Regions from separate parts of the Homo sapiens genome. Here region 2 is linked to region 1. Evidence: fine-mapped expression QTL. A gene starts in region 1. The other region holds a variant in brackets. All regions are shown on one strand. Distances are from middle to middle.

What was found. PIP is the estimated chance that this variant, and not a neighbour inherited with it, causes the effect. A credible set is the group of variants that fine-mapping cannot tell apart.
Region 2: its variant is the best candidate, but not a certain one, in a credible set for the expression of FLT3 in spleen (GTEx, PIP 0.73).

The regions. Positions count from the first base shown.
Region 1 is chr13:28,097,683-28,102,682 of GRCh38, forward strand. FLT3 (fms related receptor tyrosine kinase 3) reads right to left here and starts at 2,894. Exons shown (of 24, transcript NM_004119.3): 1 at 2,786-2,894. The coding sequence starts at 2,828. RefSeq lists silencers at 2,728-2,887, 3,008-3,067 and an enhancer at 3,178-3,307.
Region 2 is chr13:28,024,695-28,030,219 of GRCh38, forward strand. It overlaps FLT3 (fms related receptor tyrosine kinase 3), which reads right to left. Exons shown (of 24, transcript NM_004119.3): 16 at 3,484-3,594; 17 at 2,394-2,547; 18 at 167-249. Among named protein-coding and RNA genes, the nearest start is that of URAD, 39 kb to the left of the region's middle. The variant T/C (reference allele first, on the strand shown) is at 2,820.

The sequences.
Region 1 (5,000 bases):
TCTGGGCTCACATCCAATCCAAACCAAGCTTTGCTGAGTGTCCCTTCCCTCCACTTTCTCCTGAATCATTCCCCCTTGGGCTAGGAGTTTCCAAGAAGGCAAATAAACTAAGATAAGCAACAAGAGCAAAGAATGGCAACTCAAATGTGCAGTTCAAGGCTTTGAATACGAATTTTTTTTAACACTAATGAAAAAGGTAGTATCATAGCTCTTAAAATATTGAAATACTTCTCTCTGTCCAGTATCAGCAGATAATGCAGAAAAGCCCATTGGGAACATGTTCCTCTCCTTCAAATGCCACTTAGAAAGCTTCATCATTATTCATAAATGATGAATAGAAGTCTGGGCATGGCCGGGTGTGGTGGCTCATACCTGTAATCCCAGCGCTTTGGGAGGCTGAGGTGGGTGGATCGCCTAAGGTCAGGAGTTCGAGACCAGCCTGGCCAACATGGTGAAACCTCGTCTCTACTAAAAATACAAAAATTAGCTGGGTGCGGTGGCACGCACCTGTAATCCCAGCTACTCAGGAGGCTGAGGCAGGAGAATCGCTTGAACCTGGGAGGCGGAGGTTGCAGTGAGCTGAGATCGCGCCACTACACTCCAGCCTGGGTGACAGAGCAAGACTCCGTCTCAAAAAAAAAAAAAAAAAAAAAAGTAGTGTTTACAATATAAGGGAAATTGGGATCCCATGTTCTAATTCAAAGAATTTAAGGCTATTAACCATTTTAAAGTTCTCATGTTTAAGCTTCTCACTTTATCCTTCTTTATTCAAGAAAATCCATAATACAAAGTATTGGCAAAGATGTGAGGAACTGGAACTGCCATACACTGCTAGTGGGAGTGGAAATTGGTGTAACCACTGTGGAAAACCGTTTGACGGTATCTACCAAACCTGAACATATCCCTTCCCTATGATCCAGGAATTCTACTTGTGGGCATAATCCTTTATACTGGTGTTTATGTCCACCATATATAAAACAATGTTCACAGCAGTGCTATGCATAATTACACAAAATTGGAACAACTTCCATGTGCTTCGTGAACATAATGGATAAAATAAATTATAAGATCTATTCATACCACGGAATGGTACCAGCAATTAAAAAAAAAAACACTGCTACAGAGAACAAGGTTGAATCTTATTATTATAATGTTGAGTAAAAGAAGGTGGACATAAAAGAGCACACGATGATGGTTTGGTTTACATGAAGTTCAAACATAGGCAAAAGCAATCCATGGCATCAGAAGTCAGAATAGTGGCTACCTGGGGAGGGGGTACTGACAGAGAGGGTGGAGCTAGAATTGCTCTATATCTCAGTCTGATCGTGGTTATTTGGGCACGTACATATGTGAAAACTAATGAAATTGTACTCTTAAGATGTGTGCATATTTACTGTGTGCCAATTATACTTCATTTAGAAATATCTGGAGAGAGAGACATAGAAATTTCTGAATTCTTTCCTAAATAGAAAAGAATTCCATGCAGCTTAAATATCGTTGCAAGTATTGATGCTTATACCTTTAGAAAGCCCATTATGCTTCTGAAAAATGCACTTACTACTTAATATCATACATAATAGAAAGCTAACATTTTGTATTAACGGAATCTGGAAAACATATTGTACTACACATTTGAAATTACAGATTTACTAACTAGTAAAGATAACTATTTAAGAACTAAAATGTCTTTGTTTTTCAACTCTTTTCCCCCGATTTCCATTTTTTACTTTTTATATTTCAGAATTATTTGTAACAAAAGCTATTGGATATAATTCCTGCACTTCTATATTGCAAGCATTTTCTCTATTTACCACAGAGACTTCAAGTCCTAGCATTTCAGAGCTGAAGGGGACTCGGACGGACTCCCTCACTGCACAGATGAGGACGCGGAGGCCGGGGGAGGTGAGTGTCAGTCCCAAGGTTGCAGACCTAGGACAGGGACCGGAGCTGCCGGGCACCCAGAACTCTGTCGCCTTCAACCCAAATTCGATTCAGTCCTCTCATCTTTCCAAATAGAAAGCTGACGCGAACCGATGGGAAGATTTTTTTTTTCAATAACAACTATGCTACCCAGCAGATTCTTTGGGGACAGTCCTCGGAGTCCTTGAAAACCCCTTTGGGGTTTATGCCAGGATAAGAAGAGACTAGAAGAAAGGGACAGCTAGTATTTTAATATGTAAATCTGTTTGCATAATATTTCCTAGGTAAACTATTCGTTGATCCAACCAAAATTCGGCGGGGCTGGGGGGTATCGTTATTGAGGATGACTCGCTCTAGGGGAGAACGCGGACGCATTTTCCCATCAGAGTTCCCTCCATAAATCAAAACCTCAAAAGAAGAGTTAAAGACGACACCCAGGTGTCTACAGTATCCAAGGGCCGGGCCAGGAGAGGTCCTTGGCCACCTGGCGCCGAGTTCGCGGCCGCAGACTCCCACGGACGGCCCAGCACCCGAGCGCGCGGGCCGAGCTGCCCCAGACCCGGCGCAGCGCCTCGGCGAGGCCGTCTGCGAAGTCCGGGCCGCCACTCGGGACCGCGGCCCGAGCCAGAGGAGAGACTTCGGAGAAGAGGGAAGAGGACGCGGGGTGGGAAACGCCGGGGCCGCAGGCAAGTAGTGGGCGAGTCCGGAGGGCGCGAAAGAGGGGAGGGGCGCGGGAGGCAATGGAAGGAGCGAGCGCGGGGAGGAGCGAGGCGGCTGGGCCGGAGGAGGCGCGCGCCCGGGTCCACACTGCGGGGTGGGGGCTGAGGGACCGCGAGGGGCTGCGAGCGAGCGAGCGGGGCCTTACCGAGCAGCGGCAGCTGGCCGCCGTCGCGCGCCAACGCCGGCATGGCCTCCGGAGCCCGGGGTCCCCAGGCCGCGCCGGCCCAGCCCTGCGATGCCGCCTGGAGCGGCGCGCCTCGCGCTGCAGGTGGCTCTCTTAAGGATGCGCGTCACCGACCGCAAATTCCCTCGGACTGGTGCAAAGTGGAAGGGGGGAGGAACCCTCTCCCCAGAGGCAGGGACCGAGGCGGGAGCGGAGAGGTTGGGCAGAGCCGAGCAGCCGGTGCCTGGCGCAGCGCTGCAGCCGAGCCCACGTGCCCGCCGCGGTCCGCAGCCTGTGCTCGGCGGCCCCCGGGGCTCCCCGACTGCGGCGGGGAAGATTGGGCGCGGTCCCGCCGGAGAAGTTGCACTGGCTCCGCGGCTCTGCCGCCTTGCTGCCCCTGTGAGTCCCCGAACTCTGTCGTTTGGATCCGGGGCGTGGGGACTGCAGGGAGCCACAAACCACCCTCCTAGTGCGCTGGGATCTTTGAGGCCCTGAGAAAGGCGCTGAATCCGCTCGGCACGCTGGCAACTCCCGCCAGCGCACAGGCGAGCATTCCATTAAGAACCATTCCATTCTTAATTGTGGACTGATTTCCTTTGTCTCTGCCTCCATCTCCTAGGATGCTCAGGACCCAGTCAGCGGCGGGATCAAGAAAAACAGGCAGGGTTTCAATGTCAACCAAGGCAATTAGGGAGGTTAACAAACAGCCTTCAAAACAAAACACACAGAAAATACATCCCAGAGGATGTTGCGAATCATCCGCTCAATAGTTCTTGTTCTTCATCGCATAATTTTTCGAGTTGAAAATTATTATTATTTTCTTTGCAATAAGTTGAGGATTGGAAAGCTCTGGATGCCAGTTCTGGTTCTTCCCTTACTTAACTAGCCGTTTGACCTCCACAAACCTCTGTTTACTCATCGTAAAGGAAAGGGATGGACCAAATGGTTCATAATGTCTCTCCCAATTCTAGGAATTCCACGCTCTTAATTATTTTAATTATTTTCTAATAAAGCATGAAAATTGACTGTTTACTCTTGGCCATACAGTTCTTTTCCTTAGATGTTGTCTACAGTACAATAATTCTTTCCCCTAGGGTATGGCAGAAACTTTAGAAGTGTCTACCATGGTGCAGCCACTATGGAAAACACTATAGAGGTTTCTCAAAAAATTAAAAAAAATACGGTCCAACAATTCCATTTCTGGCCATGTAGCCAAAAGAATTGAAAGCAGGGTCTTGAAGAGATGTCTGTACACCCGTGTTGAAAGCAGCATTATTCACAGTAGTCAAAAGGCAGAAGTAACCCATGTCCACAACAGATGAATGATAAACAAAAATGCAGTATATACATACGACTGAGTATTTTTCAGCTTTAAAGAGGAGGGAAATTCTGATACAGCTAAAATATGGATGAATCTTGACATTATGCTAAGTGAAATAAGCTAGTCCCAAAAAATACAATACTGTATCCCATTACAAATTCATAAAGACAGAAAGTTAAATGGTGGTTACCATGGGCTGGGGGCAGGGGGAAATGGGGAGCCAGTGTTTAATGGATACAGAGTTTCAGTTTTGCAAGATGAGCAGAGTTCTGGAGACTGGTTGCACAACAATGTGAATGTACTTAACGCTACTAAACTGTACACTTAAAAATGGCTAAGGCTGGGTGCGGTGGCTCATGCCTGTAATCCTAGCACTTTGGGAGGCCGAGGTGGGCAGATCACCTGAGGTCAGCAGTTCGAGACCAGCCTAGCCAACATGGTGAAACCCCATCTCTACAAAAATGCAACAATTAGCCAGGCGTAGTGGCGCATGCCTGTAATCCCAGCTACCTGGGAGGTTGAGGCAGGAGAATCACTGGAACCCGGGAGGCAGAGGCTGCAGTGAGCTGAGATCACACCACTGCACTCCAGCCTGGGTGACAGAGTGAGACTCTGTCTCAAAAACAAAAACAAAAACAAAAAGTTAAGATGGTAAATTTTATGTATGTGTATTTTACCTCAATTTTAAATTTTTTAAGTTTTTGTGTAGCTGCTGGGGGTTTAAAAATTTTTTTAAAGAGTGTTGTGTCTACCTTAGGTCAGAAACAGAAGTGAAGGAAGATGGCCTGAAATAAGTGAAACATGAGGAGATAAAGCAATGAAACAGGCTGGTTATGGGGAGAAAAGCGAGCTTCCAATGGCCAAGACCTAACACAC
Region 2 (5,525 bases), 73 kb before region 1:
AATGTTGACATAAAATCTACAGTATACAAACTGGCTTTTAGCTATCATCTGACAATTAGCAAATTTTAAAATGCTTTTGTGTTTACACACTTTTAAAAAATAGCTAACATAAAACTTTTGCATTCATTTCCATTTTAAAGTGCTACTACTTAGAATAAAATATTACCTTCAGAGTGAAATGAATTCCCATGAAGCCCTGAGATTTGATCCGAGTCCGGGTGTATCTGAACTTCTCTTGAACCAGGCATGCTATTAAAAAATTTTGTTTTTTCATTATTTACATTATTCTTCTCAGCAGACATTTTATTTTAAAAATGTAATTCATCAAATAAATGGATTCCAGTTATAAATTGACTTTTAAATTAAAAGCACACCATCCATTTGTCCATTTTTTGTGTACATTAAAAACATCTGTGTAACTGGGCTTGCCAGTCTAAGATAAAAGTAATCCCTGTTTTCCATATAGAATCTTACAGTTCAAAAAGGACCTCACTCAATCCTTGCCACAACCTATGAGATGGGTGGCATTTTATAAAAGAGAAATTAGGCACAGTGAGATAAATATGATTCGAGTGGAACCAGGACTCACATCGATCTCATTCTTTGGTTTCTGAACTCAGCCCACTTTCCCTCACATAATACAGATCTTCCCGAGAGTCCCGTAAGCGTTTCACCATCCTTCTTTTTTCCAGTTTGCCTTTGTAAAGCTCATTTCTTTTTACTGTGAAATTAATAAATAGCAATAATACAAATCTCTTTTAAGGTATATAAAAATTCTTCCCTGAGGAGCTCTGTAGGAATTATAAGTAGATCACGATTCAATTTATTCTAATATACGAGTTTAACCCAATTTACAATTTACATATCTTTAGGAAATGGCTTCATGCTTTCAGACCACAAATATTCCAAAAGGAATAATTTCAGTGTATTTAATATTCCAGTGAACAGAACGAATCAAAGGGGCTAAGTACTGACCAGTGGATACTGGTCACACACATCGGACTCAGTAGGATAGCCCCTCTGTTCCAGAATATGAGTGGCTTTATAGAGTTCTCATTTCTAGACGATGAGCTGGGAAATGAGTGTAAAGGAGAGGACGGTGTGACGGGCATGCATAGGTTAAGGGCAGCTGCACACGGACGTGCATGGGGATCTCCGTGGGGCCTGGTGGCTTTAAGACACTGGGTCTGTGTCTCAGACCTGGAAGGCCAGAGGCCTGCACTTAAAACTTACATTCTAAGAAAACAAAGCCGGGACTCTCAAATGTATCCCTAAAAAGCCCCTGGTAAAGAAAAAAGTCTCCAATAAACAAATACCCTTCAGAATAAGGGAGAACTTCCATACAGGGAGGGAAATAAGAACGCGCCAAGGCTCAGCCAGGTGCGGTGGCTCATGCCTATAATTCCAGCACTTTGCGGGGCCTAGGTGGGTGGATCAACTGAGGTCAGGAGTTCAACACCAGCCTGACCAACATGGTGAAACCCTGTCTCCACTAAAAATACAAAATTAGCTGGGCGTGGTGGCACATGCCTGTAATCTCAGCTACTCGGGAGGCTGAGGCAAGAGAATCGCTTGAACCTGGGATGTGGAGGTTGCAGTGAGCCGAGATCACACCATTGCACCACTCCAGCCTAGGCAACAGAGCGAAACTCTGTCTGAAAAAAAAAAAAAAAAAAAAAAGAATGCTCCAAGGCTCAACGAATGCCTCCATCAGAATGCCTGGGAATCCATTCAGAGAAAGGTGCTACAAAGCCATGATGCTCAAGTAATTAGCAAGAAAGTTCAAGGATGAGGAGGAGATCCAGCAAACTCCTACAGCCCTCATTTATGCCCGCTAAAGCAATAAATCCCTGCAGGACCAAGCATCTCTCAGGATCCCCATGGATGCGGAGGATAAACACAGAGCAGAGACAAGGTTACTGCTACTTTACTGTGTCCCCATCACGTGTCGATCAATCCATCCTAATATCTTAGAATCCAATTTGAGTTCAGCGTTCTTTTGCGCAATAGTCCCAGGACCCGAGCTGCTCTCTTTGCATATGTTAAGGACTTTGGAAAAAGTCTTCATTCTTTCTACCAATACCTGTGAGGCAACCAGGTGTCCTGAAAGACCGAATAATGCACCTTTCCCCAAACCAAATAGGCGTCTATGGTGTGATGCAGGCATGGGTGGAGAGAGACTAGCTCAGCTATAGTACCTGTACTGAAGGAAAGGGACAGGACTCGTTCCATGTCAACAGGGAAACTATAGCAAAGATTCAGGAAATCTCTAGGTTGCAGGACCCACAGACTTCACGGTGCCTTTAGAAACTGGTCAACGAAGTGTGTTTGAACAGCACACTTTGCCTACGTTCTATGATGTGTAATTACGAAACCCTGACCCAGCCTCTTACCTGGAATTTGGATGTGATTGGAAAGTGGGGTAAAAACTGAAATTGTGTTCCTTGAAAATCTCTGTCCAAGTCCTGTGAAATTTTTCTCTTTTACTTCTTAGATAGTTGAGAAGATCACCATAGCAACAGTATTCAAAAATCAAGTAAATTGGTCCTGAAATAGTTACAGTTTCAATTATAGGCATACACAAAGCAAACTGTTATTTCAGAAGTCTATGTAGCAGACAACATACTCTTAGGAGGGCTTGGTTCTCTGCTGACTTGGGGACAGTACAACTTTTTCTGAGCCTAGCTCTTCTTATACTTTAAATTCAGTTTCAGCTTTTGCTCAAATTTCTTTGGAAAGCAGCATCTTCTTGACATTCTCTGTGGCCCTTTTTTGTATGTGTGGCCTCACCAATACCACTGGCCTCCTGGATTCTCCAG[T/C]TGGCAACTGAAAGTAATGTTCTAGCTGTGTATTATAGGTGAACACTTGGTAACTATATGCTGATTTGCTGTTTGCTTGAGGAGGGAGAAATATATTCCCAGTCCTCTCTCAGATTCACTTTCCTCTTTTTCCTTTCTTTTAGTACCAGCCCCAGGCCTGCTGCTGCAGAAAGAATGAACCTTGGGCACATCATTTGGGTATTTCTAGGCAGAAGAGAGAAGATCAGAGGGCATGCCCCAGAGAATTCTGGGAAAGTAAAGTCTGATATCCTAGCTAGGCTGTGCCGTATTTGACGGCAGCCCAACTGGGGCAGTGGCCAGGCTCTGTAACCACTCTCACCACGCCTGTGCACCAGCTTCCAAGCTGGGAGAGAAGCACAGACACCACCAAATGTACTTGCAATGTTGTTGTTGTTGTTGTTTTTAAGCAGGTGAGAATTATGCAATATATCACGATAAAGCAGATGAATGAGGCATTCTTTATTTTGACCCCTCTGATTTATAGAGTGCTCAGTGTCTAATTCCACTTGGGTTTGAGAGTTCACACTGTGACTGAGAAAAGACAAAGAATTAAAAAGAGAGAGAGAGAGAGAGAGAGCAAACATCCTCTTTGTCATCAAGCTACAGTCTTTTTGATGAGGTGATTTTCGTGGAAGTGGGTTACCTGACAGTGTGCACGCCCCCAGCAGGTTCACAATATTCTCGTGGCTTCCCAGCTGGGTCATCATCTTGAGTTCTGACATGAGTGCCTCTCTTTCAGAGCTGTCTGCTTTTTCTGTCAAAGAAAGGAGCATTAAAAATGTAAAACTCAAGTAAAATACGAATTTTATGTCATTAAATAAAATTTTTCTCAGCTCAGAGTCAATCTGCATTATTTATTTAAATTCAAAATTATGAGAGAAGCCAGGCATGGTGGGTCATGCCTGTAATCCCAGCACTTTGGGAGGCCGAGGTGGGTGGATCACTTGAGGTCAGAAGTTCAAGACTGGCCTGGCCAATATGGTGAAACCTCGTCTCTACTAAAAATACAAAAATTAGCCAGGCGTGGTGGCAGGCACCTGTAATCCCAGCTACTTGGGAGGATGAGGCAGGAGAATCGCTTGAATGTGGGAGGCAGAGGTTGCAATTAGCTGAGACTGCACCATTGCACTCCAGCCTGGGCAACAAGAGTGAAACTCCATCTTAAAATAAATAAATAAATAAACAAACAAACAATATCCTGTGTTTTAAGACAGAATTTCTCCTTTTTCTTTTTTTTTTTTCCTTTTCTTTCTTTCTTTTTTTTTGACACAGTATCTCACTCTGTCACCCAGGCTGGAGTGTAGTGACATGATCTCAGCTTACTGTAGCCTCTGCCTCCTGGGCTCAAGTGATCCTCCTACCTCAGCCCTCCAAGTTACTGGTACTACAAGCACAGGCCATCATGCCCAGCTAATTTTTATATTTTTTGTAGAGATGGGGTCTCACCATGTTGCCCAGGCTGGTCTTGAACTCCTAGATTCAAGCAATCCTCCCAACTCCGCCTCCCAAAGTGCTGGGAATACAGGCATGAGCCACCATGCCCAGCCTAAGGCAGAATTCAGACTGTAGTATAGGGCTGGGCGCAGTGGCTCACACCTGTAATCCCAACACTTTGGGAGGCCAAGGCGGGTGGATCACTTAAGGTCAGGAGTTGAAGACCAACCTGGCCAACATGGTGAAACCCTGTCTCTACTAAACATACAAAAAATTAGCCGGGCGTGCCGGTGCGTACCTGTAATTCCAGCTACTCAGGAGGATGAGGCAAAAGAATCCCTTGAACTGGGGAGGCAGAGGTTGCAGTGAGCCGAGATTGAGCCCCTGCACCACTCCAGCCTGGGTGACAGAGCGAGACTCTGTCTCAAAAACAAAACAAAACAAAACAAAACAAAGACTATAGTATAAATGTTGAATCTGGTAATGCACCTTTCAACAGGACTTTCCTCTACCTACCAAAATAAAAATCCTTACAGTTGGCCCTCAAAACAAACAAACAAAATAATAACACATGCTTTTCCTCCTCAGTACAAGTTAACAGAAGGGAGAAACGTCCTTTTTGTTTGTTTGTTTGAACTCTTGGATCTGTTGTAGTCAGAGAGAGATAACAGTGTCGTGAGCATGGTTGACTCTAGCCTGTGGCCCTCAGGTCTAGAACATTAGATTTGCCAGCAAGTCCAATGGGAGAAGGTCAAAGAGGACTAATTCCCACTATCAGGTGCTCAAGAGACCCATTAATTGACATTGAGAAATAAAACTGCCAAGCAGGCTAGAACATATTGGTTGGCCAATGCATTCTCTCTCTAGGGAAAATTCCAGATAGCTCAGCAAACTGTACTTATAAGCTGACTTAGAAGCACAGTGTGAGGAAAGTCACTATGGAATCCAAGGGCTCCCGTCATTGCGGCTCATGTGCAGTTGGTCAGGGCAGCCCGGGCAGCCACAGGGGCAAGGGCAGGGTCTCTGGACTTCCCTCTCCAGGCTCCAGGCACCACCCCTCTGTGAACAGACTTTTTCTTCCAGATATAGTAACTCTTCTTTACATTCAGTGAAGATTTGGTTCGATTGCCAGGTTCCATTATTTTGTCCAGGAAGGCATCCTAACCTTTATAGTGGCTTCTCCGGTGCTGACATCCTCTATTTTGGTTTGGGCAAGCTCTCAGGGGTATCCTTGTTTCCAAGATTTTAGCT